Homo sapiens: one gene and its partners. The protein of the gene in region 2 interacts with the protein of the main gene of each other region in a biochemical or structural test. Each region holds a gene or a part of one and is shown on either strand. Other genes may lie near its edges.

Region 1 (8,342 bases), on a different chromosome or scaffold from region 2:
AAGTCACAGTGAGTCTCCTGCATGGTTACGAGGCTGTCAGGAGACAGGGGTGTCTGCCTTCCTGGTCTCCCCTCACCCCTGGGGTGCCCTACTCTATCAGGCTGCCCTGCTACTGCTGGCTTGAGGCTGGAAGAGCCAGGGAAGGAGACCTCGGCTTACAGGAACCAGGTCCTGGTAAACCCCACCCCAACCCCAGCCCCTCAGCCTGGGGCTTTGCAGGGCAAGGCCTCTGCCCCTCCCAACTAGAAGCTTCAGGGCACGGTTTGCTGGCCACAGACCACCTAGCAGCCAGGGTGCCAGACTGACCCCACCTCCCCTTATACGTGCAGGCACCAAGGGTGGGAGTCCTTCCCTGCCCAGCCTGGGGACGGATTCCCTGCATTTAACCTCCTCCCAGACCCTGGACCAGAACCTGGGGGTCCAGCAAGTTCAAGGGAGTCGGAGGACCGCAGGCCTCAAAGAAAGGAGGGCAGAGCTACTTGGAGGGGAGGGGCCGATGCAGCACATGGGGATGGAACCTAAGGCCAGCCCCTGGTGGGCACCTCGCTCTGCACCACAGACCTGCCTGAGACAGATCCCAGAGGCCTGCAGTTACCCAGCCCTGCCACATACAGATGGCCCACAACTGGGCCCTAATTAGCCACTCAGTCACACCTGCATGCCCAACCCGTGTCTCTGGCTGCCACAGGCAGAGCTGGGCTCCAGGACAGGGACACAGAAAATGGGGACCATGCTGGGAGGCCCACGTGTCCCCAGCCTCCCACCTAGCAGGGCGCCTGGGTCTCCATGCCAGGGTTCCCGTCTGACATGGGTAGGGTCGCACCTGCCCCCGCTACAGGTAAGGAATAAAGCCACAGCAGGGCGGAGCAGGGAGCGTCACATGTCTCTCATCTCTGTGGGATGCTCCGGCCAAGGTCCCCCGCTGGCCTTTCTGCACCTGCCCCTCCATGGGCAAGGAGGCAGCCTCACAGAGGGGAAGCAAAGGCTCTGCCATGGGGTCTGGAGGCTGAGAGCCTGTGCAGGGAGAGGCACGAGCTCTTCCTCGAGTGATGGAGGCTTCAGAGCTGGAGACCCCAATGGACTCTTGCCCCCTCACCCAAGGGGTTTCCCAAGGAGAGGCCCTGATGGGCTCTATCTAACCCCCTTGGAGGAGGGGCCCCCGGGGCAGCTGTCCACCCTGAGACTGGGCTCTGCTGCCACTTGTCCGGACCCTCCAGCTTCCAGAGCATGGGCACCAGGGAACTGCTCCAGGGTCAGCCAGCCTTGGGACTCGGCCCAGAGACCCCCGCCCAGCCAGCCTCGGCCTCAGGACTCTGCCCAGAAACCCCTGCCCAGCCGGCCTCGGCCTCGGGACTCAGCCCAGAGACCCCGGCCCAGCCAGCCTCGGCCTCGGGACTCGGACCAGAGACCCCCGCCCAGCCAGCCTCAGGACTCAGCTCGGAGACCCCTGCCCAGCCAGCCTCGGCCTCGGGACTTGGACCAGAGACCCCTGCCCAGCCAGCCTCGGCCTTAGGACTCAGCCTGGAGACTCCCACCCAGCCAGCCTCAGCTTTGGGACTCAGCCCGGAGACCCCTGCCCAGCCAGCCTCGGGACTCGGCCCAGAGACCCCCACCCAGCCAGTGCTTGTTGCTTGCCAGCCCAGGACTTGGAGGCTCCAGGGGACCCCCATCGTGGGGCCTGGTGGGCAAAGAGGGCTCCAGCCAACCCCCCAAATCTGAATCCCGAGAGGCCAAGGGGATACTTACGCGCCACAGAGAAGTTGTTGAGGGGAGCCTCACGTTGGTCCACATCCTGCGGCCGCTCCTTGTAGCCAATGAAGGTGCCATCATTCTTGAGGAGGAAGTAGCGTGGCCGCCAGGTCTTGATGTACTCCCCTACAGACGTGCGGGTGGTGAGAGCCACGCACACTCTACCCGTCAGACCCTCGCCAGGCAGCCAGGCAGGAACTGGGTGTGCCAGGACAGATGTGCCTGGGATGCCTGAGTCCCAGGGGGCAGGCGCGGTACGGGAGCTGTTTCTTAGGGCCAGCGACAGAAACGGCCCTGGGTCAACGGGAAGGCAGACTCGCCCCACCACAGCGCCCCTCTCAGAAGAGCCACCCCGAGCTGTGTCTGAAAACGGGCTGGGCCAGCTGGACGCAGGGGATGGAGTACCATGGACAGGAGGCTGGGAAGAGGTCTGGGCCAGTCTGCACAGCCTTCCTGGAGGAGGCAGCCCTAAACCAGCCAGTCCCCAGCAGGCACCAGCAGCAGCTCGGGCCCCAGCTATGGCCACAGGGGCTGCGGGGCTGACAGCATTCCCCAATCAACCAGGGTCGGCCAGGTGGCGACAGCAGGTGACAGTGGCTTGTGTGGGCTGCCCAGCATGGCCGCCCCCCCCGCCCCGCCGCCACCCACCAGGAGGATGGAGCATGGCGTCCACAGTTAGAGGTCAGCACCACTCAGACTGAGGGCCGGGCTCGCGGGACAGGACTGCCCACTGCCGTGGGATCGCACTCCCTGTCTAGGGGCCTGGAGCACCGTCTTGGGGACTGCCGATGAAGCCAGACACGGAGGTGGCCCAGCCAGCTGGGCAGGGGCCCCAGGGCACAGAGGGTGCCAAGTCCCCAGGCTGAGACCCACACTCAGGCCCTGCCGCCGTCGGCCCTGCCGCGTCCCACCCGTGGGTCATTCAGGTACACGGGAACATTCTCCCTCAAGTTTTGCAGCATCAGCCGTACGCAGGCGTTCACACTTCAGAATCAGAGCAGCTGTCCTCGGTGATAGCCCAGCAAGTACCATTTTTCATACTGACACTCGGAAAAAAATGTTCCACTTACATTTTGCCAAGCAAGGAGTTTGAACAACAGGGAACTTACTAATTAGGCAACTGCTTCATCTGAGGGGTCACTGGGCAGGGGTTAGGGAGGGGGCCAGGGTAAGGGGTTGGGGTCCCTGAGCTCTGGGGCCTGGGTTTTCATGCCACACTGAGCCCCAGACAGGGACACCTGGAGGGATGTGGGGGACAAGCAATTGTCCCATCACCAGACCACCCACCACCCAGTCCTGCTGGGTCTTCGTGGTGAGCCCAGACGCGTCCAGCCCTCCCTGGTGCACAGGGAAGTCCCAGCAGGGCAGCAGCCCCAGGGGAGCTCAGAGGACATGGGTCATGGGCATCCCAGCAGGCATTCTACTTTCCAGGGAGCCACGGGGGAGTTCTTTAATAGAGGTGAGCCACCAAGGCTCGACACATGGCCACCCCCCGGCCAGGTGACCTCTCCCTCCTACCCCGGCCCCAGCTGCCCAATGCCCTTCCCACCAGCACCACGGGGCGTGGTCTCCACAAGACCAGCCCTCTCTCTGCCCAAGCCAGGGCTGCTGGGGGGATGCTGGTGGAGGGTGGGGACACCCCACCCAGCAGGGCCTGAGTGTGGGAAGAGGCTGTTGTCAGGTCTGGGGTGGACCAGGAAGGGGACAGCCACAGCCCACTCATAGCTGCCTGACACCTCTGGAGGACGGCCAACACCCAGTTGCAGGGAGGATGATCCAGGGCCCAGAATCTGCCCCTGTGCCCAAGAGCACTCATCAGGAGACCCCACCCACTCCGCAAGCCCTCCATGCCCCTGCCAGTGGGCTGCCGAGCAGGCGTGGTCCTGCCACCCTTGGGTGCCGGCTCCTGTCCCTGACCTGGGATCTCGCACACCCCCGAGTGTGCACATACACGCACATACGTGCCACGCAGCTCCACCCCGCCTCCCACGTCCCCTCCCCCAGCCACAGGGCCCCTGCAGGTGCAGCGGGCAGGCAGGGGCGCTCAGTGAGAGCAGAGCAGGCTCAGGGGGCTGCATGCAGCCCACCCCACCCGTCCCCCATCCTGGGCCACCCCGCTGCTCACGCCCACCCGCCTGCATGCCAGTCTGGAGCTGTCGGCCCCTGATGGAGTGCCTCCCATCCTGCCAGCTGCCACTCCCCGGGACGCTAACTGAGCGGGAAGACTGATGAGCGCCCAGGCCCGGCACCCCTGAAACCCATCTTATCCACCAACTGCTGCCAGCCCCCACCGTGCCCAGCATGGCCCCGTGCTGCCCCCGAGCACGCAGCTCCCGTGCCCAACCCCAGCCTTGCCCCTGACCCTGCTGCCACAAGCCCAGCCCCAGGTTCTGTGAGCTGCATCTGGGGGGTTCTGGGAGCTGGATCTGGGGGTGCGGGAGGGGCAGGCCCAGGGGCGGCGCTTACCAGGCGTGGGGGGTGGGAGAGGACAGGTGCCCAGCCCCGAGCATTCCTGGGGAGTCCTGGGATGGGCAGAGGCCCAAATGGGCCCTGGGCTTTCAGTGCCTTCCCCTCGCCTGGCCCCACAGACCCAGGGAACAGACGGCGATCAGGGCCTACCCCAGGAGACGGGTGTGAGTGAAGGGGCCTCACGTGGCCTTTGTCTTCGGCATCCCAGCCCAGCACACAGACCCCTCCAGGGGAGGAGCAGGATCCCCAGGGACCCGGGGTAAGGGGTCCAGAGACACACAGTTCTCTTTCTTCATCTCTCGCCTAGAGGGTCAGCTAGAGGATCACTTGGGGGGGTGCCAGCTGCAGCCAGGGCCGTGGCGCGCATCTTAACGAGTTCAGCCCAGACAGGATGCTGGGTGGGCGGCCAGCCCCGACAGCAGATGCGGCAGGGCCCCACTACTCCCTGATCCAGGACTGGGGTGACACAGGACGGGGCAGGTGGAGGAGACAGCCACCCGGGGCCCAGCATCACTGTCCTCATGGCCACAGGACGCCTGCAGGCCTGCACCTGCCTACTCCGGGTCCCTCAGGAGGGTGGGAGCACAGACACATCAGCCAGGGCTGCCCTCCCAGACCCCTCACACAAAGAGACCAACCCACATGGAGTCTTCTCCTTCACTATCCTGAGGGTCCCCAGGGGAACTGGAACCTGTCATCCAGGACTTAACTTGAGTTCCCCACCCTGTTGTGGTCCTCAGATGCCCCCCACTCGAGGCAGGAGTACAGTCCACTTGAAGAGTGGCCTCTCAATCCCTGACACCCCAGGAAAAGTGCCCTGCATTGCTGGGGGAACTGGAACCAGGCAGTAGGGACCTCGTCCTCCACACCGACCATGGGAAGCACCCGCCACAGAGGGGCCTTCCATCTCCCCACCATCAGCCAGCTGGCATCCCCCCACCCCACCCCAGTCACCCCCCCAACACCACCCCACCCACCTGCCTGCACAGCTGAGGGCACCAAACACAGAGTGGGCACAGACCCCCAGGTTGCCACGCCAGGCCCTCACTCCAGACGGGTACAGGCAGGCAACAAATGGGGAGGCCAGGGCACGCCCCACCCCACACACAGCCAGAGTCATCTCCTGCCAGCAGCCACTCCCAAGGGCAATGGAGACCGCCCAGCATTCAGGCCCAGGGGGCCTCTTCAGTCCCTAACTCTCACACCCCCATGCTGGGCTCAAGAACCCCCAAGTCCCCACCCGCTGCACATGTTTCAGACCCGGGACCTGGAGCAGGCAGGGTCCCAGTGCAACCCCGGCCTGGGCCTCAGGGTCTGGCAGGGAAGACGGCTAGGTGCCCCTTCAGAAATGTCAGCAAGTCCGGATGGGGGACCCCACACCACTGCCAGAAGACCTGAGTGGGGGGCCGAGTGGAGGACGGCACTGGGGACTGGTCCCACCTTCCTGCCCCATGGCTGGTCCCCTGGGCAAGGGGGAAGCAGCAGCTCCGGTCCCACCCTCCTGCCCCATGGCCGGTTCCCTCGGCAGCGGGGAAGCAGCAGTTCCAGTCTCACCCTCCTGCTGGCCCCCTGGGCAGTGGGAGGCAGCAGCTCCGGTCCCACCCTTCAGGGTTCTCTCAAGGCCAGCCCTGGGCCAGGTGGGAGCCACCCTGACCCTTAACCCTGTGACACTGCACCTATCCAAGACCAGGTCCTGTGAAGCCACAAGGGCAGGGGCTCCTGTGCCTGATGAAACCCGTAACCCTCCCCACCAGCCAGCACATCCATGGCCCAGGGCTCCAGGCATGGGAGGTGGCTGCCCTCGGTGGGGGGTAGGCAGTTGGCCAGACTCCTGTCCCTGCCCGGGGGGACAGCGGAGACCAGGCTCCCTCGACTCCTCCTGCACCTCCTGGGCCCCACACAACCCCAGCCCTGGTCCCTCTGGCATCCCGATGTCCCGGGTGGCCCTCCGGCAGGAGTGACCTTCCATCCCCAACCCCGCTCATCCCCAGGAAGGGGCTGGAGCACCCCCAGGGAAAGAGGGTTCCTTCCCAGAAGTCCTCCTGGACCAAATACCGGGGTTCTGAGAGGAAGCTGCTCCTGCCTGGCCTCCCCCAACCCACCCCACCACCACCACGGGGACCACATGGACAGTCACAGGCAGCCCACCCTCTCCACGCCTCACACACGTGTCCCAGGCCACACTGTGGGTCAGGCCCCCCAAAGCGGCACCCACTTAGACATGGGGGCCAGGACCCACGCGCCATGGGCAGGACTGGGTGGGCCCCTGAGGGCCAGCTGGTGGCCCTCCACGTCCCGGGACTGACCACCTCCTGAGCCACCAGGTGTGTCAGCCCCCCTAGGCCACCACGTCCTCAGCTCCCTGAACATTCTCTCAAAGTCCCCAGTTCTCAGGAAACTGCTGGATAAACACTTCGCAGAGACGGTGGTGGCAGCGGCTGGCAGGGTGCCAGGCGGCACCGAGCTGCTTCTCCACAGCAAAGTGAGCCCAGCAGGCCCTGGGAGCGGGCGCCAGCTGACAGCGGCCACCGTGGTCCCCACTGCCGACACATCCATCGCCCCGACAGCTGCCGGGGGCCCATTTACCTTCTCCAGCACATTGAGCAGACGGCTCCGCTGACGGCAGCCCATGAGGGGCCCGCAACCCACCCTCCCCGCCTGCCAGGAGACCGCACAGCTCACCGCGAAGGGCCCGGCCTGCCAGGCCTCTGCCCGGGCCCGGGAGTACACACCCCTTTACCAGCAGCCCTCGAACCCTGTAAACAACCAGGCTGGGGTGGGGGCAGGGGAGGGGCCACACAACGGAGGCCAGCTGACCCCACTTGGCTGGAGCCCCCAGGTCTGTGGGTGAAATACATCCACTGCTCCTCCCGGCACAAGCCCTTCTGAGGGGGCACAAGTGGCCAGTCTGCACAAGGAGAGGTGTCTGTTCCCGCCAGGCAGAGGACTGGCGCTCCACCTGCCTGGGCCTCGCCCAGCCCAGGACCCATTCTGCTCTCCCAGAAAGCCCACCAGGCAGGCAGGGCGGGCAGGGCTCATCATGCCCATCAGCTCCCTGGGAAAACGGAGACTTAGGGGAGGTGACCCTCAGAGGCAGATCATGACCAGAGAGACCCCAGGTCCTGCCGCCAAGGCAGGGGTTGTAACTTGACACAAACTGCAAATTCTTCACCTCCTTCCGCTCCACCATGGAGCAGGCCTCAGCCCGACACACACACCCCGGGAGGAACATGGTGCGGGCAGGCGGCACCACCATGACCCCGTCCACCTCGCTGAGGCACAGCCGGAGGCGCTGGGGCCTCTCTTCCTGCCACTCCAGGGAAGCACCTGGGTCTCAGCTTTCCATTCTCCTGGGGCTCTACTGGGTGGGGTACTGGGCCTCCCTGGTGCTGCCCCTGACAGACCACCTGGGCCTGGATGTCCTCCCCCACAGGCACTGCCCGTCACCCACCCCTCGGGCCGGCAAAGGCACCCCACCTGCCACACACCCATCCATCGCAGAGCCCAGCACATCCCAAGACCCTGTCCCTGTCCCTGTCCCCCACCTCATTTTTGGTCTGCCCCAAACAAGCCCCACCCATGTCATGGCCCACCCTGCCTACTCAGGACCCCTGCAGATGAGGCTGCAGCCCCTCCCTGGCGCCTCCTACTCTGCCCCCGCCCACTCTCCCCATAACTTGCAGCAGGCTTTGCCAAGTGCCCTCCACCCAGTGGGTTCCCAGGGCCCTCACCCTCGCTCCCTGCGTGGGAGGAAGCTGGGCATGGGGACAGCACACAGTGCCTGCTGCGAGGGAGGGCTGGCCACAGTGTCCCACGTGTAGACACTGCCCTCGGGAAAGGAAGTGGGCACGGGCACAGGCTCCTTCCGGGGCTCGGCCGGGGGCACGCAGCCATGCCCACAGCCCCTCCCTCCTCCCGTCTCTCTTGGGCAGGGCCCCTGGCGGTTGAAGGGCTCCAGTGCTGGCCTCTCAATCCCTGACACCCCAGGAAAAGTGCCCTGCATTGCTGGGGGAACTGGAACCAGGCAGTAGGGACCTCGTCCTCCACACCGACCATGGGAAGCACCCGCCACAGAGGGGCCTTCCATCTCCCCACCATCTTGTTTCTGCCCCAACTTGGAGCCA
Region 2 (6,524 bases):
GAATAAAGGTCGCCAACTCAATAAAACCACCAAGCAAAAGAAGTAATACTAGGTGTGAAATTACTGGAATTTAACGTGAGATTTCTTTTTCTAGAAAGACTCCTTCTCCCAATATCTGCACTAAGGCTTGAGTACATACGCCCCAGGCACCTAGGAGGCTCTGAGGGTGGATGGGAGCGGCAGGAGAGGGCTGGGGCAAGCACATGGGTGGGGGTGAGGAAGGCTGTGAAGTCTAGTACAATGAGCCTTTGAGGAACGGAGTAGGGGGTGGGGTCTTCTCAAACCAGACTACCTCCCCTTGGGAGGCCTATCTCACAGCCCGCCTACTCCTGCAGGGGTTAGGTGTCCCTCCACCCCCACACTCCACCACCTCCCCGGGGTGAAATTCCCCCACCCTCCTCCATGTCTCTGCCTTTGGGCAGTTTCTTCCTCCCGCCCTTTGCCTTTTCCCCTCCCTCCCCCTTATCCAAGGGGAGAAGCAAGGCAGCAGAAACCAGAGCTGGTTATAGGCATTTATTGAATTTATTCATTTATTGATTTGACACACTTCCCCACTCCAATCTAGCACATGATACAATCTGGGTAGGCCAGGCGCTGACACAGGAAATGATGGGAACCCACAGCAGGGGTGGGGGAGGGGACGATGCAAAGGGCACTGGGGGAAGGGCTGCTTTGGGGGCTGGGGTGGAGAAGGAGCCCCAGATGGCCTCCCTGGCAGGTGCTAGTAAACCTGATCCACATCCCCCCCCATCCCTGCTCATTTCCCAGACCCTCAGCCAAGCTCCCCAGCTCCCCCTTCCCTGTTCCTCCCCTCCCCGCTGCCTGCTGCCACACACACTTCCACATAACCCCTGCAGTCAGGGAAGGGGAAGAAGGGCAGGGACAGCTGTCAGGGGCCTTGAACAGGGAGGTCTCTGTACCTAACTTTACCATCCTAAATCCTTCCCTCCTTCTCTTCTCTCCCCTCCCAGTCCCTTCCCTGGCCCCAAGCTAATTCCAGGCCTTCAATGTACTCTCCCACCATAGCACTAACCCATGCTGGGTCATAGAAGAGTGTGGCTGCACCCTAACACCACACACTCCCAGGCACAAGTTGAAGGAATGAGGGGACCTGGGTTAGCTTTTTTGTTAGGGAAACTCTAACCTATTTCTGCATAGACCTTTCTCTATACCTGGTCCGTAGGGGAGCTCTTCCCTGTGTTTACTATTACTCCCCACCTCTCCCCACTTCCCTGTGTCTCCTAATATTTATTGTCTGTAGTGTTTGTATCATGTCACTATCACAAAGCCTTCAGAAAGAAAAAAAAGCATTCTGCCCACCACTAGCACCCTGCCATGGTTAAAAAATCTCTATATTTGTGTTTATATTTCTTTAAAAGTTTATAAAAAGCCTTTCTGTTATCTGCAGCCTTCTAAGGGTGATTTGGCCTGGCGAGCCACTCCAGTGCTCAGACCTTGGCCCTTCCAGATCCCCTAAACAGCCCACCCACCGCACATCACTGGCCTAAGGGGCCACTGCATAGAAATCCCAGGCTCCAGCTAGCCTGGCTCAGCTCAGATAAGACTCTCTACAAAAAAATCCTGCTCCCAAAGGCAGGGGTAAGGCCACTGGTGACTTCACATTTCCAACAGCATTGCTCATCTTGCTACAAAGCCTAAGTGGGTAGGAATGGGGAAAGCCGATGATGGCTCCTGAGAGGGGGCCTTACCCCCTAATTGGCACAGTGAGAAAAACCCTCTCCCCTTTCCCCTCCCATCTCCCTCCCCATATCGTCCCCAGATGGGGCAGCTTTATCTTTATAATTTCTTCAACACCTGTGTGTGACCAGACCCCACCCTAGCTCTAAAGCAGGGTCCCAAATTCCTGGGGAGGGCTCAAGGGTAAAGAGTAGATATGAACACGCCTGGCTCCACATCTGAAGCAGGGGACAAAGCTTCCAGGCATGACTCAGGGATCTGTGGGAAGAAGAAACAGAGAACAAGGTAAGAGGCTTACCTGGGGCTTGCCAACATTCTATCATCCAGATTCCCACCAAAGAAGATGGTGGCACCTAACCCGCTTCCATACACATACCTTTTCTGTGCTACCTTGCAGGGCTGGGCACAGCTAAGGGGCCTGGAGGTCCCATCCGGAAACTATGCTACTGTAATATGACATCTTCCCTCCAGTTCCCCAGGAGCTCTGGCTACCACTTGTCCTAAATCTCCCCTTCGCCCAGATCATGGGACTAGCTGGGCACCTAGGAGTGGTAATAGGCTATGAGGTGCTGTGGTGATTAGGGGGTACTGTACCTGGCTCAAAGTTGAAGTCCAGTCCCTCGCCCTCATCCATGAGGTCACTGATGATGTTATCCATGTCACACTCCAGGTTCTCCATATACATATCAAGATCTAGATCCTGAGGCATTCTGTCTTGGCTTGCAGCTTCAGTAGGGGGTGTGAGCACAGGAGTCCCCAGAGCCTTGGGGATGGGGGCACTTGCCATGACTGGAGGTGGTGCTATCATAGAAAGGGTGGGAACCAGACTGCTGGGGCCTGGAGCCTCTAGGGGCTTGGGACACAGGCCGACGCCCGTGGCCAGCTTACTGGAGGAAGGAAGCCCCCCCAGCAACAGAAGAGTCGGAGCCTGGGACAGAATGGGATCTACCTGGGTCATGAGGACGTCAGCAGGGGGTGGTGGCGTATCAGAGGTGAGCAGGGCCTCCAGAGCCTGGGAGCTGGAGAAGCACCCTTCTCCTGCTGACAGGGGCCCCTCTGCTGGGCTGAAAAGGGAGCTGCTGTAGGTGTGTAAGGGGCCGGTAACCCCAGGATGCTGCAAAGAGAAGCCAGAGAGACCACTCCGAGATAGCAGGGAATGGGAAGAGGTGAGATTGAGCCCATCTAACAGCTCTAGACCTTCATTGAGGGTGGGAGGGACACCCCCTGCATAACTGCTGACTGAAGCTGGTATTTCCTCCGCCAGCACCTCAGACTCTGGCCTCAAGGGGGACAGCCGGGTGCTGACACTGCTGGCATTTGAACTGCTTCGTGGACGGAAGGTGGTCCACATATCGGCTTCTTCACGGTTTCGAGAGCAAGGGCTGCCTGACCACTTGGCAAAGTGGCCGACAGGGCTCGTTGGAGTGGCACCTTCGGGTGGAGCTGGCAGCACAGATGGTTTCTTCTTGGGGGCTTTACTGCGGCCCCGGAGCAGCTTGCTGCTGCTATCCATGGAGGCGGCCCGGCGGCGGGGGGCTTTGCCGCTCTTGCCTCCCTCAGGGTTCAGCATCCACCAAGAGCTTTTGCCGGTGGCCTCGTTGTGAACCTTGATGAACTTGCTGTGCAGGGACAGGTTGTGGCGGATCGAGTTCTGGAGGGGCAGAGATGGCAGGAAAGGGGCGTGAGGTACTGTAGGGGAGGTCAGTGGCCAGCGGTCAAGTCTAAGAGGATGCTGGACCCTGATGATCTAGGGTTTAGGATTTGGTGCCACCACCGCAGCAGGGTTCATTTCGGGGCTTCATTTCCCAGGTCATTAAAGTTTAAGAAAAACTTTAAATAATTTACAAAAAAAGAGAAAAAGATAAAAGATAAAAGGGTGCTGGAACACAGCAGGGGTATTCCTGGAGACTCAAAGAAAGTTGAATCCAGGGGGGAAAACTGGTAGAAGTAGGGGTGGGGGTGGGGTGTGAGGGGAGACCACACACATTTCCCGCTCCCAGACAAGCTGCTCAGCCTCTGCTCCAGACTTCTCTGTACAGCGGGTGGGAGATAACGTGTAATAATCCACTGCAGAGAGCACGGGGGATGCCCACCCTGGAAAAGCTCCTGGTACTCTGCTCTTCCCAGGGCTTCGTGTGTGTTTTGCGGGGGGTGGGGGGAGCGGTACCTGGGGCTGGTGGGCACTGGGGAGACGTGCTCCTTGCCCAGCAAGAACTAGGTTCAGGTGGGAAAGAGCATTGCACCCCTTTCCTTGAGTGCAGGTTTGGGTAGAGTTTACGGGACAGTGGTACAGCACCAGCCCAGGATGGACCCGCCCTGCCCAGAGCCAGTTCTCTGAATAGGCTGAAGGGCTGGAATCTCAGCACAGCAGGTGCTCCATTCCCCACAGAGCATTTGGGCCACCCAGCTCTCTATAGAATTTAAAGATTCCTTTTTCCCCCCTCCCTGAATCCCAGCCTTATTTCTTCCAATCCACAACACACATCCTCAACTACATTCAGTTCAGGTTCAGGCTTCCTGCTGTGCCTCAAATGCGTGAGGTGCAATCTTCCCCTCCCCTCTTTTCCGAGGAGGGATCTCCCCTCTCTAAGTTTTACTAGTTCCGTCAAGACCAAGCTTCAGTTCCACCTCTTTTATAAAGCGGCTGCTTGACTTTGGCAGCCAAATTTCTAGTATAGTATTTTTAAAATCTGCGCCACACAATTTCACCCAATTTATATTGTGTGGCTTATGGTTTCATGTAATTCGTCTCATCGAGTGTAAGTGCCAAGTGTAATGTCCTCCAGTCCCACATCCCCCATCAAAGCCCTCCCAGAGCACCAAGCTCACAGCACATATTCTATACCTACTCAAGCTCACAGTACATAATCAATATTTGTACCTGATTGGTGGGTTGCCCCTGGGTTGACAATGGTGAGGCTCCCCTTGAGGCTCTGCCAGCTCTTCAGTGCCTTGGGTATTGGAAGCTGTATGTTTTCCCTTCCTCCCTCACTGGTGACATTCTACTAGGGAAACGATGCTTTCCAGTGGCCCAGGGAGCTGAGATTGGCAGCTTCTTCAGCCCCCAGTGCAGCTTATATTTACTGATTGCCGCGGGGCAGGCTAGTTACACAAGGGGTTTGGCCCTCCCCTGGCCACCCCCCTTCCCGAAACCTGCCTTCTTTTCCCTACCTCCTTCCCAGTGCCTTTCCCCCATTTCTCAGGAATTTGTGCATAAACTCTTCAACCTTGGGGGCATTTGACCTCCCACTTGGAGGTCTTTAGTTTAGAAATTCAGGAGGAGCCCAGAAGTGCTTAGAGCAACTAGGAGGCTGAGTACATGGGACGGTCAGAAACTACTTGTTTCTCTGACTGGTGCTCTTAAGATAAGGAGCACCTTTGCCTGGGGAATGATGCTTCTTGTTCCAGGGTTCTTTAGCCAAAGAACTCCTTGTGTTCCTGGGACCCTGAGGTAATGGCATTTCAACTGTGCTGATGTTCCTTCAAGGAGTGGCACTTGTCCATCCGGCCTCACCTCATAGTAACTAAGGACCACAATGACCATGACCTGGCACTATGATTTCTCCTCTTTTTATCCTCTAATTCTGGATCTACTTGAGAAGATCCATTCCTTTCCCTACTACTTAATAGCCACAAGGCCCGTTTGTCTCCTCTTCTTTAGGCCTTGGAACTAGCAAGTGGTACACAGACTCTTAATTGGAGAGGTCAGTTTCCCAAAAGCCCATAACTCTTACATGTTGGAGGGCAGGGTGGTGGGGGTGACTGCTAATTGCTCCCTAAGCCACCTAATCTAAACTTTCTTGTTCTAAGTGAGTGCCGCCCCCTGGTGGGGTGGGAGTAACCTTGGCATATCATCAGGGAGGCCAGTTCAGGCATGAGACTTCCCCTCAGAGAGGGGTGGGGGGGCCTTGAAGTCCCAGGCTCAGCCTGATTTGACTTTGCCCTCATTCCAATTAGAGCAAGCCAGGCTCTTTTTAGAGAATATGATTTATAGTTAGACCTGAGTTCAAGTCCTCACCCTGCTGTTATTAGGTGAATTTCCTAACCTTTTGGTACCTAGTTTCCTAATGTGTAAAATGTGGAATCTCAGAATTGCTGTAAAGATTAATAAAATAAAAACTTTAAAAACTACTTTGTAAACTCTAAAGCCCCACAGAAGTGTAGATTATAAGGACGGACTATACTCCCACAATATAACTAACAACTTGTTATTTCCTCTACCCTGGAAAATGAACCTAAGGGAAAAGAAAAACAGCTGTGTAGGCTGGGTCCAAGGAGGGGAGCTTTTTATGAGCTGAGACTGTGGCGTGGCAGTCTACCCAGAAATAGTGCCAAGGGTCTCAGTCAGCTGTCCTATCTTCTGTTCTGCCCAGCCCCTAGGGATAGCACAGATCTGATCCCTCAGTCTCCTATACCTAGGGGAAGTTCCTCTGCTCATCCAACCTTCTGTACTTGGTTATATGCTGACCTCACCACCTAGAGAGGTACAAGCCAGCAATAGGGCTTGAGGCTCCCCAATTTTGTGATTACAGCCCCATATTTTCTCAGGACAAGTTTTTCAGAGTATCCTTTGAGATATTCTCTCACAGTTTCTTCACAGAAGGCCAAGAGAACTCCCAACTTTGTGCTCTAAAGTCAGAGCCCTACCTCCTTCTTCATGACTAATATTCCTTAACAGTAAAGGATGACTTCCCCCCAAAACTTGGATAGCCCCTTACAAGGGAGAGTTTCTTGGCAGCACAGGGTAAGCTGAGCCAAGTGGCAGCTCACAGCCCTTTTTCTTCTTAGTGCATGAGATCAGCTACCTTTCCCCATGAATATTATTG
Region 3 (8,342 bases), on a different chromosome or scaffold from region 2:
TGATTTCGTTAGGCAAATTCATTGGCCACCTGCCAATCTACTAAACCAGAGTCTAGGAATGAGACACAGGAAACTCCTGTAACAGAAGTTGGTTAAAAAAATCACATTAAAACACACTTAAATAATTATAAAGCCATTTTTGTAGAATTACAGTGAAAAAAAATTTTTTCTTTTGGAGACAGGGTCTTGCTCTGTGGCTCAGGTTGGAGTGCAGTGGCGTGGTCATAGCTCACTACAATCTTGAACTCCTAGACTAAAGCAATTCTCTTGTGTCAGCCTCCCAAGTAATTGGTTGCAGGCACACACCACCATGCCTAGCAAATTTTAAATTTTTTAGTTTTACTTCATTTATATTTACATAGTTTTTTCTGTTGTGCTTTAAGCCCCAGTATTTTTATTGTTTTAGAGATTGGGTGTCATTTTGTGTTGCTCAAGCTGCTCTCAAATTCCTGGCCACAACAGTTCTTTTTGCCTCGGCCCTCCGGAATAGTTGGAATTATAGGCATGAATCCCTACACATGGCTGGCTTGTGGTTTTTTTGGTTTTGTTTGTTTTTAACTAAGCTTCTACACTAATGATTTCAGTGATCTAACGATTTTTTTCTTGATTGATATATTGTTGAGTATAGGTCCGTTTATTAATGGTTAGTCGAATGGCTAAACCAGAGGAAGTATTGGTTGTAGAGAATGATCAAGGAGAAGTTGTGAGAGAATTCATGAAGGATACAGATTCCATAAATTTGTATAAGAATATGAGGGAAACATTGGGTAAGTTAATAAATACTGTTAATCTTTACCTTTATAAATCTATTCTGGGGTGGAAATACATTTTAGGAAATGTACTTGTAGTTTCTAAATATTTTCTAAATGTATTGTTACTCATCAATAAAATTCTGCTCATTATTTGCATTTGAAACCATGTTTTTCTTTGTAGTTTATCTTACTCATCTGGATTATGTAGATACAGAAAGAATAATGACAGAGAAGCTTCACAATCAAGTGAATGGTACAGAGTGGTCATGGAAAAATTTGAATACATTGTGTTGGGCAATAGGCTCCATTAGTGGAGCAATGCATGAAGAGGACGAAAAACGATTTCTTGTTACTGTTATAAAGGTATGCAAGGGATAGGTATGAATTAGAATTGCTAAATAAGTATTATGTTGTTACAATAAATAATACAAATTTGTCTTATTTACAGGATCTATTAGGATTATGTGAACAGAAAAGAGGCAAAGATAATAAAGCTATTATTGCATCAAATATCATGTACATAGTAGGTCAATACCCACGTTTTTTGAGAGCTCACTGGAAATTTCTGAAGACTGTAGTTAACAAGCTGTTCGAATTCATGCATGGTAAATCTCTTTCTTTACTATATTTTGCTTTTATTTTTATTGAAGAAAATAAATGAATGTTTTTGTCTTGTTAGAGACCCATGATGGAGTCCAGGACAAAATAAATGAATATTTTTGTCTTGTTAGAGACCCATGATGGAGTCCAGGATATGGCTTGTGATACTTTCATTAAAATAGCCCAAAAATGCCGCAGGCATTTCGTTCAGGTTCAGGTTGGAGAAGTGATGCCATTTATTGATGAAATTTTGAACAACATTAACACTATTATTTGTGATCTTCAGCCTCAACAGGTATGTTAAGCACTGAGCATATGTTATTTTTAGAAAGTAACACTTGTATCAATCTGTATGTATCAATGGAAATAGGAGGGCAACTATTGGATCCAATAGAAGTGTTTCTGATTAAATTTTCTTTCTTTTTTCCTTGAGACAGGGTCTTACTCTGTTGCCCAGGCTTGAGTGCAGTGGCACAATTACGGCTCACTGCAGCCTTGAACTCCCAGGCTCAGGTGATCCTCCCACCTTGGCCTCGTGGGTAGCTGGGACTACAGGCATGCACTGCCATCACACTCAGCTAACCTTTTTCCCCCCCTTGGTAGAGATGGGGTTTTGCCAAGTGGCCCAGGCTGGTCTTGAACTCCTAGCTTCAAGCGATACGCTTGCCTCAGCCTCCCAAAATGATTTTATATGTGTGAGCCACCACGCCCAGCCTGGTTAAATTTTCATAGTGAGACAGATTCTTGACCAGAAGATTGTTAGGCTGTTGTCCTATGTAAAATTATTCCGAACAAACAAAATCAGGTGTTTTTTGTTTTGTTTTGTTTTGGGGTGTGTGTGTGTGTGTGTGTGTGTGTGTGTGTGTGTGTTTGTTTTTTGAGATGGAGTTTCACTCTGTCGTCCATGCTGGAGTGCAGTGGCGCAATCTCGGCTCACTGCAGCCTTGCCTCCTGGGGTCAAACGATTCTCTTCCTCAGTGGCTATGATTAACAGGTGCTTGCCACCACGCCCAGCTAATTTTTTTATTTTTAGTAGAGACGGGGTTTCTCCATGTTGGTCAGGCTCATCTCCAACTCCTGACCTCATGATCCGCCCGCCTCGGCCTCCCAAAGTGCTGGGATTACAGGCGTGAGCCACCACCATGCCTGGCCAGTTTGGGTTGTTTGTTTGTTTGTTTTTTGAGGTGGAGTCTTCCTCTGTCACCCAGGCTCGAGTGCAGTATTGCAATCTCGGCTCACTGCAACCTCTGCCTCCCAGGTTCAAGCAATTCAAACCTCCCAAGTAACTGGAATTATAGGCACCTGCCACCACGCTTGGCTAATTTCTTTGTATTTGTAGAAGAGATGGGGTTTCACCACGTTGGTCAGGCTGGTCTGCAACTCCTGACCACAAGTGATTGGCCTGCCTTGGCTTCTCAAAGTATTGGGATTACAGGAGTGATCCACTGCACCTGGGCCAAAATCAGTTTCAAGACGTTTGTGAATTGCTTGTGTGTGGTTTTCCTTATTAGGGTGTATAACATAAACGTTAAAATGTCTGCTTTTTAAAATAGGTTCATACGTTTTATGAAGCTGTGGGGTACATGATTGGTGCACAAACAGATCAAACAGTACAAGAACACTTGATAGAAAAGTACATGTTACTCCCTAATCAAGTGTGGGATAGTATAATCCAGCAGGCAACCAAAGTAAGTATTTCTACCTTTTCTTAAAAGTTTTCATGGGATTTAACAAGACGTGTTCTTTACAAATGTATTGAATTCAAGCCTTTTAACATGTATGTGTGATCCATAAGTGCTTTTATGTGTGTCTTTCTATAATTTATTATCTGGGCGAGGTGTGGTGGCTCACGCCTGTAATCCTGGCACATTGGAAGGCCGAGGCGGGCGGATCACCTGAGGCCAGAAGTTCGAGATCAGCCTGGCCAACATGGCAAAACCCCGTCTCTACTAAAAATACAAAAATTAGCTGGGCGTGGTTGCACATGCCTGTAATCCCAGCTACTGAGGAGGCTTAGGCAGGAGAATCACTTGAACCCAAGAGGCAGAGGTTGCAGTGAGCCGAGATTGAGCTACTGTTCTCTAGCCGAGACGACAGAGCAAGACTCTGTCTCAAAAAAAAAAAAATAAATGAAAAATCTGGGCCGGGCTCGGTGGCTCACGCCTGTAATCCCAGCACTTTGGGAGACCGAGACGGGTGGATCACTAGGTCAGGAGATTGAGACCATCCTGGCCAACGTGGTGAAACCCCGTCTCTACTAAAAATACAAAAATTAGCCAGGCATGGTGGTGGGCGCCTGTAATCCCAGCTACTCGGGAGGCTGAGCCAGGAGAATGGCTTGAACCCAGGAGGCGGAGCTTGCAGTGAGTCAAGAGCATGCCACTGCACTCCAGCCTGGTGACAGAGGAAGACTCTGTCTCAAAAAAAAAAAAAAATACTGTAATTTCCATTCTCATTTGATATTAAAATAGGAATAGGCTGGGTGTGGTGGCTCATGCCTGTAATCCCAGCACTTTGGGAGGCCGAGGCAGGCGGATCACCAGGTCAGGGGATCGAGACCATCATGGCTAACGCAGTGAAACCCTGTCTCTACTAAAAATACAAAAATTAGCTGAGTGTGGCGGCGGGCGCCTGTAAGTCCCAGCTACTCAGGAGGCTGAGGCAGGAGAATGGCGTGAACCTGGGAGGCAGAGCTTGCAGTGAGCCGAGATCACGCCGCTGCACTCTAGCCTGGGCAACAGAACGAGACTCCGTCCCAAAAAAAAAAAAATAGAACTATATTACTTCATTCTTAAGTAGATGTAGACAAAAAGGCGTTTGTGTTCGTTTTTACCATTTGGGATTATAAATATGGTTTAGGGTAAGGGAAGCGTAATGGCTTTTGCTTTGGTAATTATGTGGATTTTTTTTTTTTTTGAGATGGAGTTTCACTCTTGGTGCCCGGGCTGGAGTGCAATGGCGTGATCTCGGCTCACTGCAACCTCTGCCTCCCGAGCTCAAGCAGTTCTCCTGCCTCAGCCTCCCAAGTGGCTGGGATTACAAGCAAGCACCATTGTGCCTGGCTAATTTTGTATTTTTAGTAGAGACAGGGTTTCTCCATGTTGGTCAGGCTGGTCTTGAACTCCCGACCTCAGGTGATGCACCCGACTCAGCCTCCCAAAGTGCTGGGATTATAGGTGTGAGCCACCTCGCCTGGCCATTATGATGGATAATTCTTTTTTTTTTTTTGAGACGGAGTCTTGCTCTTTCGCCCAGGCTGGAGTGCAGTGGTGCGATCTCGGCTCACTGCAAACTCCATCTCTAGCGTTCACGCCGTTCTCCTGCCTCAACCTCCCGAGTAGGTGGGACTACAGGCGGCTGCCACCACGCCTGGCTATTTTTTTTGTATTTTTAGTAGAGACGGGGTTTCACCGTGTTATCCAGGATGGTCCCGATCTCCTGAACTCATCATCCGCCCGCCTCGGCCTCTCAGAGTGCTGGGATTACAGGCGTGAGCCACTGTTCCCAGCCGTGGATAATTCTTATATGATAAATGGAATTTGCTTTTTTTCCTCCAAGAATGTGGATATACTGAAAGATCCTGAAACAGTCAAGCAGCTTGGTAGCATTTTGAAAACAAATGTGAGAGCCTGCAAAGCTGTTGGACACCCCTTTGTAATTCAGCTTGGAAGAATTTATTTAGATATGCTTAATGTATACAAGTGCCTCAGTGAAAATATTTCTGCAGCTATCCAAGCTAATGGTAGGTGATTCTGATTTCTTACACAATGCAGTATAAACAAACCACTTCTCTTCTACTGCCTTAAGTCAAACATTTGATGTTTTTTACAGATTTAAATCAGACCTCCCATTTCCCAAATGACCCTAGACATATTTAAAACAGTTAAGTGTACCTTTCCCTTTTAAAATTAGTCTTAAAGCTTATTTTCCCAATAAATTTTGTGAACTTTTGGCTTTAAACTTTTTAATGGTAAAATGGAATTGCATCTAATGTACACCTGAGTACCACTGTATAAGTTTAGTGGTAAAATTAGATTCCATTTGATTCTGTTTTGTAGGTGAAATGGTTACAAAGCAACCATTGATTAGAAGTATGCGAACTGTAAAAAGGGAAACTTTAAAGTTAATATCTGGTTGGGTGAGCCGATCCAATGATCCACAGATGGTAAGTGAGAGATGCTTTGCTTTTGATTTCTAGTGTTGATGCTGTGTTTTATGGAATATGCTATACTCTATTATGTGCATTTTGCTAATTTAAAGCATATCAACTTTGTGGTTATTTTATGGCATTTTATTTATTGTAGTCCTTACGTTAATATACTAATAGCTGTATTCCATCTTCAAAAGAAACTGCTGTTAATCAGTAGCGAAGGGTGGTGATATGTAACAAGATAGCTAAGAAAATTGGGTCATTTTATGTTTCCATAGATAGGTTAGGAGGATTTAATTAATGGAGTACCGGTGCAGTTTTTGCATTCCTCTTGATTTTTAGAACAATTGCTAGAGCTACAAAGTTGTCATTACTTTACCTCTTTAGCAAAGTGATTGCTTCCCAGATTAAAGGCCTGAAAGTCTTTTTTACACCCTTTTTCCTAAATGATTTGCAGAAAAGGAAATCATTTTCAGTAATAAAAACCAGCTGCGTATGCCTCAACTTGTAAAATTGTGAATTAGTTTTAGGTTTTAACTGTATCGTTTCATTCTTGTTATTCAATTGAGCCTTGGGAGAGTCCAAAAAATTCTAATACTACTATTACTTGGAATAGTGTTGGTTTTTTGTTTTTTGGTTTTTTTTTTTACAAGTGTGCTAGTTATTTTCATAGTTTTGAAATTTCAGTATTGTTTCTTGTTAAGGAAATACTTTTCAGTAAACTTGTTCTGAATATAATTCTTGTGGAATACTTAAGTTGGCTAACCTAAATATCGAAAGGTTCTGAACATGCGTATTATGTGAACAGAACTGTATTTAAAATTTGAAAGCAGAAAGTAAGATGTATTGAAGGAATTGTGATGTTTGTAATTTACAAGAAGCTTGAGCACGTGTCGGGAGCACAGTGGGAATAATACAAAGGGTATCATCTTTTGTAACATTAATGTTAAAGTTTGGGATATTTGTTCACATGAAACATTGTGTTTATTTTCCTTGTCTTGGCTTTTCACGGTGGCTCATGCCTGTAATCCCAGCACTTTGGGAGGCCGAGGCGGGTGGATCACTTGAAGTCAGGAGGCTGAGGCAGGAGAATCACTTGAACCCCAGAGGTGGAGGTGACAGTGAGCCAAGATTGCGCCATTGCACCCCAGTCTGGGCCACAAGTGGGAAACTTCGTCTCAAAAAAAAAAAAAGAACAAGAAGTTACTCTTTAAGTATAACTCAGTTTACTTAGAATCATGAAAATCTTACTGGGCATTGTAGCATGCACCTGTAATCCCAACCACCAGGGAGGGTAAGGCAGGCGAATCACCCCAGCTCAAGTCCAGTTTAGGCAACATGGCAAGATTCAGTTTCAAAAAAATAATAGAAATCCATAGTCTTTCTTATTTTCTGAGAGTAATTGATTGATGTTATTTCTGCTTGTGAAAATACTCACCAGTTAGCATTCATTAGATTAAAACATTAGTCTGAGTTGGGTGGATCACGAGGTCAGGAAATCAAGACCATCCTGGCTAACACGGTGAAACACCCCGTCTCTACTAAAAATATAAAAAATTAGCTGGGCGTGGTGGCAGGTGCCTGTACTCCCAGCTACTCGATAGGCTGAGGCAGGAGAATGGCGTGAACCTGGAGGCGGAGCTTGCAGTGAGCCAAGATGGCACCACTGCACTCCAGCCTGGGCGACAGAGCAAGACTCCGTCTCAAAAATAAAAAGACAGTATTGAGGGCTCGCTTGCTGCCATCTTACATATACAGTATACGTAGAATCCTGATTCTGCCACCTAAGTTGGAGACACCCACTGAATTTTGAGCCTCACTTTTCTTATTGTGAGAGTTTTGTAGCTGGGCATGGTGCTATACCTATAGTCCCAGCTACTCAGGAGACTGAGGCACAAGAATTGCTTGAACCTGGGAGGTGGAGGTTGCAGTGAGCAGAGATTTGCCACTGCACTCTGGTCTGAGTGACAGTGAGACTGTCTCAAAAAAAAAAAGTCTTGAATGACAGTGTGTCCATGAGACTTCCCAACCCATTGTGATTTCCTGCTTTCTTTTGCTAAAAACTGTTTTGACGTAGGAAACCCTAATACAAACACAAGATTTTCCTGTTTTCAGTAGATGATCATGCTACATCTCATAGACAGGAATAACCTTGTTGTTTAAAATAGTCACCATGTACCTAAATTAAAACATAACTTTTTTTTCCCTCCCCAACAGGTCGCTGAAAATTTTGTTCCCCCTCTGTTGGATGCAGTTCTCATTGATTATCAGAGAAATGTCCCAGCTGCTAGAGAACCAGAAGTGCTTAGTACTATGGCCATAATTGTCAACAAGTTAGGGGGACATATAACAGCTGAAATACCTCAAATATTTGATGCTGTTTTTGAATGCACATTGAATATGATAAATAAGGTGTGTAATATTTCAGTTATGTAAGGGGGAAATTCTGCAGGATAGCCTTAATTCTTGAAAGCTAAAGTATGTCTGTGGATATAACATAATTTTAATGCCATGGAGTTTAAATATTTAAACTTGTATATTAGGGAAATACTTTCTTGGTTTTCAAGAACTTACTTCCCAGGAGTTTGAAACCAACCTGGGCAATATAGTGAGACTTCATCTCTACAAAAAGTTCAAAAAGTAACCAGTCATGGTGGCATGTGCCGGTAGTCCCAACTACTCGAAAGGCTGAAGTGGGGGGGGGGGTCACTTGAGCCTGGGAGTTCAAGATGGCAGTGAGCTGAGATTGCGCCACTGCACTCCAAGAAGAAGAATTTACTACACAGAATCTTGATTGGTAAAAAGTAAATATGGAAAACAGATTTTAGCATTCACATGGT
Region 4 (6,214 bases), on a different chromosome or scaffold from region 2:
GGAGGCATGTTTACCTAACAGCGACATTCTCATTTGGGTTTTGGCCACTGCACAGACAGACAAGGGAAGGGGGTACCTGGAGGGGCAGGTGGTCACACTCAGAACCGGAGGACTCTCAGAACCGGAGGACTCCCAAAATGCACAGGACAGAGAGACGACCAGTCACATGGCCCCACACATTCTTGGGCAAACGCAGACACACATACACACGGGTGGGGGCAGCGGCTCCCACACAGAACGATGCACAGCCTTCCCTGGGCCCTGCTGCTGATGGTCAGGACACAAAGCCCATTCTTCACCCTGGAGTGGAACTCAGCAAACCCTCTGGGCCCCAGCCACTAATTTCCGATCCTTCCAGACCCAGGGCCTCTACTGTTCCAGGAGGGGTGCAGTCACTTCCCCAACCCCACATCCAACTGTTGGTGTGAATGGTGGCATGGCTGCCTCACTCCCAACCCCCCTCCACCAGGCGATGGGAGAACATTCTGCCTGGCGGTGTATCCATGCAGCCGGCTCTCCCCAGCCCTCTGGAGCTGAGAGGAAACCCATTAAACCTTCCTAATGACAAATGCTCCGGCAGGCAGGCAGCAGGCGAATGAGCGATTGCTCCCGAAGCCAGCCAGATGGGAGCGGGCACAGGTGATTGTTTATGAGGCTTGGCCTTTATTAGAAACTCAGCGCTTGGGGGAGGGGAGGTCCCCTGGGGCCGGGCTTTAGTTGCTCAGGTCCCTAAGCTCTGCCAGCCAGGCACCCCCGCAATCTGGGCTGGTCCCCATCAAGTGGAGGGGGAACAGGGCATGCAGGAATAACCACTTCTCCATCAGACCCACAGCCCCCCGACTGAACAGGGGATGGGGGTCAGGCATGCCACATCCACAGCCCCCACACTGGCGGGGGACCCCATCTCCCCGCCACCCACCCCAGGATTCCCTCTGCTCCACCTTCAGGCACTAAAAGCCATGTCTGCTCCCATCCCCCTCCCTGCAGGAGCCCCCTCCAGTCCGGGAGGGCCCTGTTGTCATGGTAACTGCAGCTGCAATGGGTGCTGGGCCAGGTGCCGGGTTGGACCCACGAACCTTCTGGAAGCCCCTGAGATGGCAGGGAAGCAGATCTCAGGGTGCTGGGCAGCTGGACAGTGCCCATGTCCCCAAGAGCCAGCTGCTGTGACTCCCCCTGGCCCAGGGCAAGGGGAAGCCTCGGGGGAGAACTTGCAGCTGGGACCCTTAGGATGGGGGGGCTATGATCCCCTCCCCACGACATCTTCCCCACTATGCTTCCCTGAGGAGAAATGAGACACAGGAGAGCAGAGCAGTGGTTCTGGGTTTAATTGGGGGTGAAAGGGTGCTGCACAGTTGCTCAGAGGGCCCATGGCTGGGCCGCATGAGTGTTCACCTTTGCGACTGAACAGAGGAGCGTGGCCTAACTAGAAACAATTCGGCCCTCGAGTCTGCCTCCAGCACCTGGGGGGACACGGGGCGGCTCTGCTGACCAGGCCTTCTCTTTGGAACACCCCTCCCACCACACTGCCCTGGGTCTGGGAGCCTCCCACCCCTGCTGAAGTCAATTCCTTAAGGGAGAATCTGGCGGTCGCAGCCCCAACTGGGGATGGACAGGGAGTGGGGACCCCAGGGCCCCCAATCTGGAAGGGCCCCCTCCCAGCCATTGTGGGAACAATAAATACTGTGTGACGGTGGCAGGGAGTGGGGGGTTCGGCCACTGGCTGGCGGGCAAGGGGGAGCTGGCCGGCCTAGCCGCCCTGCCCTGCCCCGAGGCCAGGCCTGGGCTCCCCACCCTCACTCAGTGCGGAGGATGATGTGGATGCCGGAATCCGTGAACACGGGCCCGCTCATCTCCCCCGTCCGCAGCGCAAACGAGGCGTCTTCAAATGGCTTCTGCATCTGACCTGGGAGCCAGGAGGGGCGGTGGGGGTGTCAGGGCTGGGCTGGCAGAGGCCAGGATGAGGCAGGGCGGGTGGCAGCCGCGACAGATGGGGCTCCTGCCTGCGCTGAGCCTCACACTCGTCCACACTCATCCGTCACCATGTTTATTGCCAGTGCTGAGCGGCGGCCCAGCTGGGGGTGGCAGGGCCATTAAGGAGGCCCTGGGAAGCCCGAGGACAGCATGAAGGATAGCAGGCAGGGCTACGGCCGCCGCCGTGCATTTAGGGGCCACTTCGGTAGTGAACTCGTCTCCCTGGGCCTGGTTCCCAGCCCTGCCATGTCATCTGTCCCACCAGCCTCCTCGGAGGAGGTGGGCAGCTGCTGGCCCCATGCTGCCGCCCCACCCCACTAAGACACCTGCACACCACACCCTGCAACCCATCCTGGCCTCTCCCTGATGTTTTTCTGTAGACCCCGAGGACTGAAGAGGAGGAAGAGGAGGAGGCCTAGTCCCCTCTGTCCCTGATTTCCACTGTCCTGGCCAGACAGGCCTAAACTCAGGGCCACCTCCTCTCACCCCTGGTTTCCCCACCTTTGAGAGGGATTCTGGGGGACAGGCCCTGGGACTCTCAGGGCCCTCAACCTTAAACCACAAAAAGGAAGAGGCAGAGGACAGGATGTACCCACCTTGGTGGGCCTGGGATGAGGACATCTGTGCACAGACACACAAGAGACCATGCCCCCCAGGGTAGAGATGATGCCAGGAAGAAAGTGCTGCAGCCCCCCTCCCTGTGTGGCCCTGGCCCTGCCCAGCAGAGCAGCCTCTGAAGCCTGAGGAAGGGGCTGTGCTGCCACCTGCTGGACCCCGAAGGCCGGTGTGGCACCTGGGAGCCCAATGCCCAGACCCTCCTGGCCTCTACCCCTCAGGGTGGTAAGGGTCCCCCAACCTGGTGAGGCCCATTCCTTGCGCACCTCTGCTGAAGGCACCCAGGTCTCCCCTGGCCTTGGCTGAGCTGCAGTCGCTGAACTGTGAGGCCAGAGACTCAAAGTCCTCCTCTCCCGACTTGATCTTCTGGATGTAGCCTGTGGACATGGAACGGAATGGGAGTGCCAGGTCAGGGGTTGGGGGGGGCCTGACCAGACAGGATGGAGGACTCCAGAGCTGGCCAGCGGGGGAGGCAGCACTTCAGTTGGAAAGCCTCCCCTCACAGGCGCACATGCTCCCCACAACCCCTCTCCTCACACATACCTGCATGCGCAGTCACACCTGTCCTCACCCACACCCAAGAAGAGGTGCCTTTCACGAGCATGAGCACTTAATGCACCCCGCCAGTCATCCATGAGCCCTGCCACCCTGCAGGTCTCACATCCCTGCTCCCGCTGTCACTCTCACCAGCACACACACATGCACACACACACACACACGTGAGGGAAAATCTACATACAAGCTGGATGGGCCAGAGGAGAGCAGCAGGCAGGGAGAGGCTGACCCAGGCAGGGGGCTGGCCCCCCGGGCCCCCTGGGCAGAGGTGGGAGAGCTGTCCAGAGAAAGCCCAGCACTGCCACGGCAGCCTGTGGCCCCAGCTGTCCCATCTGGGAAGAACAGCCTGGCACTGGGATGGGCCTCCAAGGCACCCTGGTGGGCTCTGCAAGGGACACTCGTGGGCTGTAGCCCCAGGGTCCCAGAGGCAGGCAACATAGCTCTTCTCCCGGCTCCCCACCTACAGTCTGCATGCTGGCAGAACTCAGGGTGGCCCCACCCTGTGTGGCCCAAACTAGCCCATCGGCTCTGACTCTCCAGGAGGCGGAGGAGGCCAGGGCTGGTGGAGTTAGGAGGAACAGGGCTGCCAGCAGAGGGGGCAAGACGGCAGCAGAGTAGCATCTGAGTGACTCACGTTTCGGAAGCCAAGTGGGGAGGGCTGCGTGTGTGTGCACGTGGTGTGTGTGGTGTGACTGTGTGTGAGCAAGTGTGTGTATGCAGTCTTGTGCACGTGCCAGGTCAGGAGGAATGGCTACCGCCTTCCTGACTCCAGGCCACCCCCAGGAAGGTGCCCATGGGCCAAAGCCTGCCCTACCCCAATCCTCTTGCTCTGACACAAACGGGCGTCCCTTCCAGTGTCCTCCCTAGGCCAGTGGTGCGACAGCCCCAGCAAGCCAGGGCAGCCCTCTGGGTGAACTGCACCCGCCCCGTGTACCCTAAGGCCTGGCAGCCACTCTCCAGGGACACCAGTTCTTCTCTCCAACGTGAAGGTCACCCTGACACACTCAGTAGGGGGTTTCTTAATGTCACCCTGACACTTCTACCCTTGCTCCTTCTGACCTAAATGATGCCATGACACACCTGCCGGCCAACTTGCCCAGGACATACATAGCTGATACACTGGCCTGGAGCCTGTTGGAGACCCACGGGAACACTGCTGGGTGACCTAGCCAGTGCTGGGAGGCCTGGACACCCAACCGTGGCACCTGCTGAACACACTGGACTGATCCAAGTGTCCCCAGGGCCCCTCGGCCTCACGCTCTAACCTGCTTGGGACTGCAGTGGAAATGGTACCACCGTGAGAGCACAGCCATAGCTCCCTGTTTGGCTGCACGTCATGGCAGCCACCAGTGTCCTGGTATCTGAGCTGGATGTCACCACGACCTGCTGCCCTGACATCCCTGTGCCCCTCCGCCTGACAGTCTTGTGCCAGTGGCTGTGACATGCAGCATAGTGCCCGGCACCGAGCAGGACCCTGACCAACGTCCCTTGCTGTCATCATTCTTCCCCTCCATGGGGACTGCATCCCAGGGATGACGCAGCCTCTACTGCTCTGCTCTCCCTATCCTTGGCCCTGCCGGCCCACGTGTCCTGGTCTGACAGGGACATCGATGCCATACAGGGCCCCAGCTTCTGTTGGGATGGCACATTACAGAGGCTTCTGCCCGTGATGCCCTGGTTTGATCAGAATGCCCCGCTTCCAGGGCTGCCACGGGGTCCTCCTCTGTGCCAGACACATCCACCAGTGACTCCGACTTAAACCAGATGTTGCTAGGACCCCCTCCCACCCCTCCTCTCCCTGAACTTCTAGGTATCTCCTTGGCCTTAGGCACAGAGCACTGGAGTCCCCTGTCCCCCCTTCTGTCTGGACCACTAAGCCAGCCAGGGGATCGCACGGTGCCCCCAGAGGTACCCACCTACTTCGGGGAAGCAGGACTGCCTGCAGGCACTGAGCGTCTGAGGAGCCAGGCCCAGGCCCTGAACAAGCATCACCTTGCCACAGCCCCCAGCGGCCAGGGCTGGGGACACAGCCACAGGGATCCCTGAAATTGGACAGCCCGCCCAAGTTGTCCTCTCTCACACACATAGTGTGCAAGCCATACCACTTAAAAACAAATAAAAGCCACACTTTGGCACACCAATAGCTCATATCACCCAGATCTGCCTCTGACCTGCCAGCTCTCTTGGAAAATTTTCTGCTATGATGGGAGCCTGCAATGACTGTTTTTGTTTTCCTTTTGCAGAGATGGGGTCGCACTTTATTGTTCAGGCTGGCCTCAAACCCCTGGGCTGCAGCAATCCTCTTGCCTCAGCCTCGCAAGTAGCTGGAATGATTTTTTTTTTTAAAACGCTTTCTCTTGAACCTGGGAGGTAGAAAGGTACAGTGAGCTGAGATCGTTGCCACTGCACTCCAGCGTGGGCAACAAGAGCGAAACTCCATTTCAAACAAACAAACAAACAAACAAACAAACAAAAAAACGCTTTCTCTTGAAACTGGGAGGTAGAAGGTACAGTGAGCTGAGATCGTTGCCACTGCACTCCAGCGTGGGCAACAAGAGCGAAACTCCATTTCAAACAAACAAACAAACAAACAAACAAACAAACAAAAACGCTTTCTTCCTGAGTTCCTGCTCTGTGAGGCTGACCTTGAGGGGTTTGGTCCTGTGTGTCTTGTTAGCTCAGCCTGTACCTGACCCCGCGACAATGACATCCTCCGACTCCCACCTCGCAGACCTTGGTTTAAGCCTCTTGTCCTGCCTGAAACTCATCAGCTATCCTCTGGTCTCCCCAAGAAGCCTCCCCTAATCCCCCACTGTGTTAGGTGCCTCCCCCTGGGTGCTGCATTTACTACCGTCCCATTGGTGTGTTGCTTGCCCGCCTCACAGTGCAGGAATGGAGGCTGCTGGGTTGGCCTTCTTCATTGCTGCACCCTCAGAACCCAGCACTGTGCACAAAACAGGTGTTCACGAATGTTCAAGAAGTTAATGAATAAATGAGACAGAAATAGGCCATGGGGAAGGAGGGAGACAGGGATCTACCACGGGGCTCGAAGCAGAAATGCTGGAATCTCATG

Evidence for each region.
Region 1: the proteins of FOXO4 (region 2) and AKT1 form a complex in vitro, tested with the Homo sapiens proteins (2 studies listed by BioGRID, with this or other methods).
Region 3: the proteins of FOXO4 (region 2) and XPO1 form a complex in vitro, tested with the Homo sapiens proteins (one study listed by BioGRID).
Region 4: the proteins of FOXO4 (region 2) and PIN1 form a complex in vitro, tested with the Homo sapiens proteins (one study listed by BioGRID).

What each region holds. Positions count from the first base shown.
Region 1 is NC_000014.9:104,778,342-104,786,683, forward strand, and holds part of AKT1 (RAC-alpha serine/threonine-protein kinase), read right to left. Parts: intron 1,876-8,342; coding exon 1,747-1,875; intron 1-1,746. UniProt on the Homo sapiens protein: AKT1 is one of 3 closely related serine/threonine-protein kinases (AKT1, AKT2 and AKT3) called the AKT kinase, and which regulate many processes including metabolism, proliferation, cell survival, growth and angiogenesis.
Region 2 is NC_000023.11:71,097,509-71,104,032, reverse strand, and holds the end of FOXO4 (forkhead box protein O4), read right to left. Parts: intron 3,350-6,524; coding exon 2,293-3,349; intron 1,957-2,292; coding exon 1,949-1,956; 3' UTR 501-1,948; downstream 1-500. Other genes in the region: uncharacterized protein CXorf65, read left to right, coding at 1-46. UniProt on the Homo sapiens protein: Transcription factor involved in the regulation of the insulin signaling pathway. Binds to insulin-response elements (IREs) and can activate transcription of IGFBP1.
Region 3 is NC_000002.12:61,485,340-61,493,681, reverse strand, and holds part of XPO1 (exportin-1), read left to right. Parts: intron 1-628; coding exon 629-767; intron 768-933; coding exon 934-1,115; intron 1,116-1,200; coding exon 1,201-1,357; intron 1,358-1,483; coding exon 1,484-1,647; intron 1,648-2,905; coding exon 2,906-3,040; intron 3,041-4,910; coding exon 4,911-5,094; intron 5,095-5,410; coding exon 5,411-5,517; intron 5,518-7,719; coding exon 7,720-7,914; intron 7,915-8,342. UniProt on the Homo sapiens protein: Mediates the nuclear export of cellular proteins (cargos) bearing a leucine-rich nuclear export signal (NES) and of RNAs.
Region 4 is NC_000019.10:9,844,779-9,850,992, reverse strand, and holds the end of PIN1 (peptidyl-prolyl cis-trans isomerase NIMA-interacting 1), read right to left. Parts: intron 2,964-6,214; coding exon 2,853-2,963; intron 1,904-2,852; coding exon 1,794-1,903; 3' UTR 1,304-1,793; downstream 1-1,303. UniProt on the Homo sapiens protein: Peptidyl-prolyl cis/trans isomerase (PPIase) that binds to and isomerizes specific phosphorylated Ser/Thr-Pro (pSer/Thr-Pro) motifs.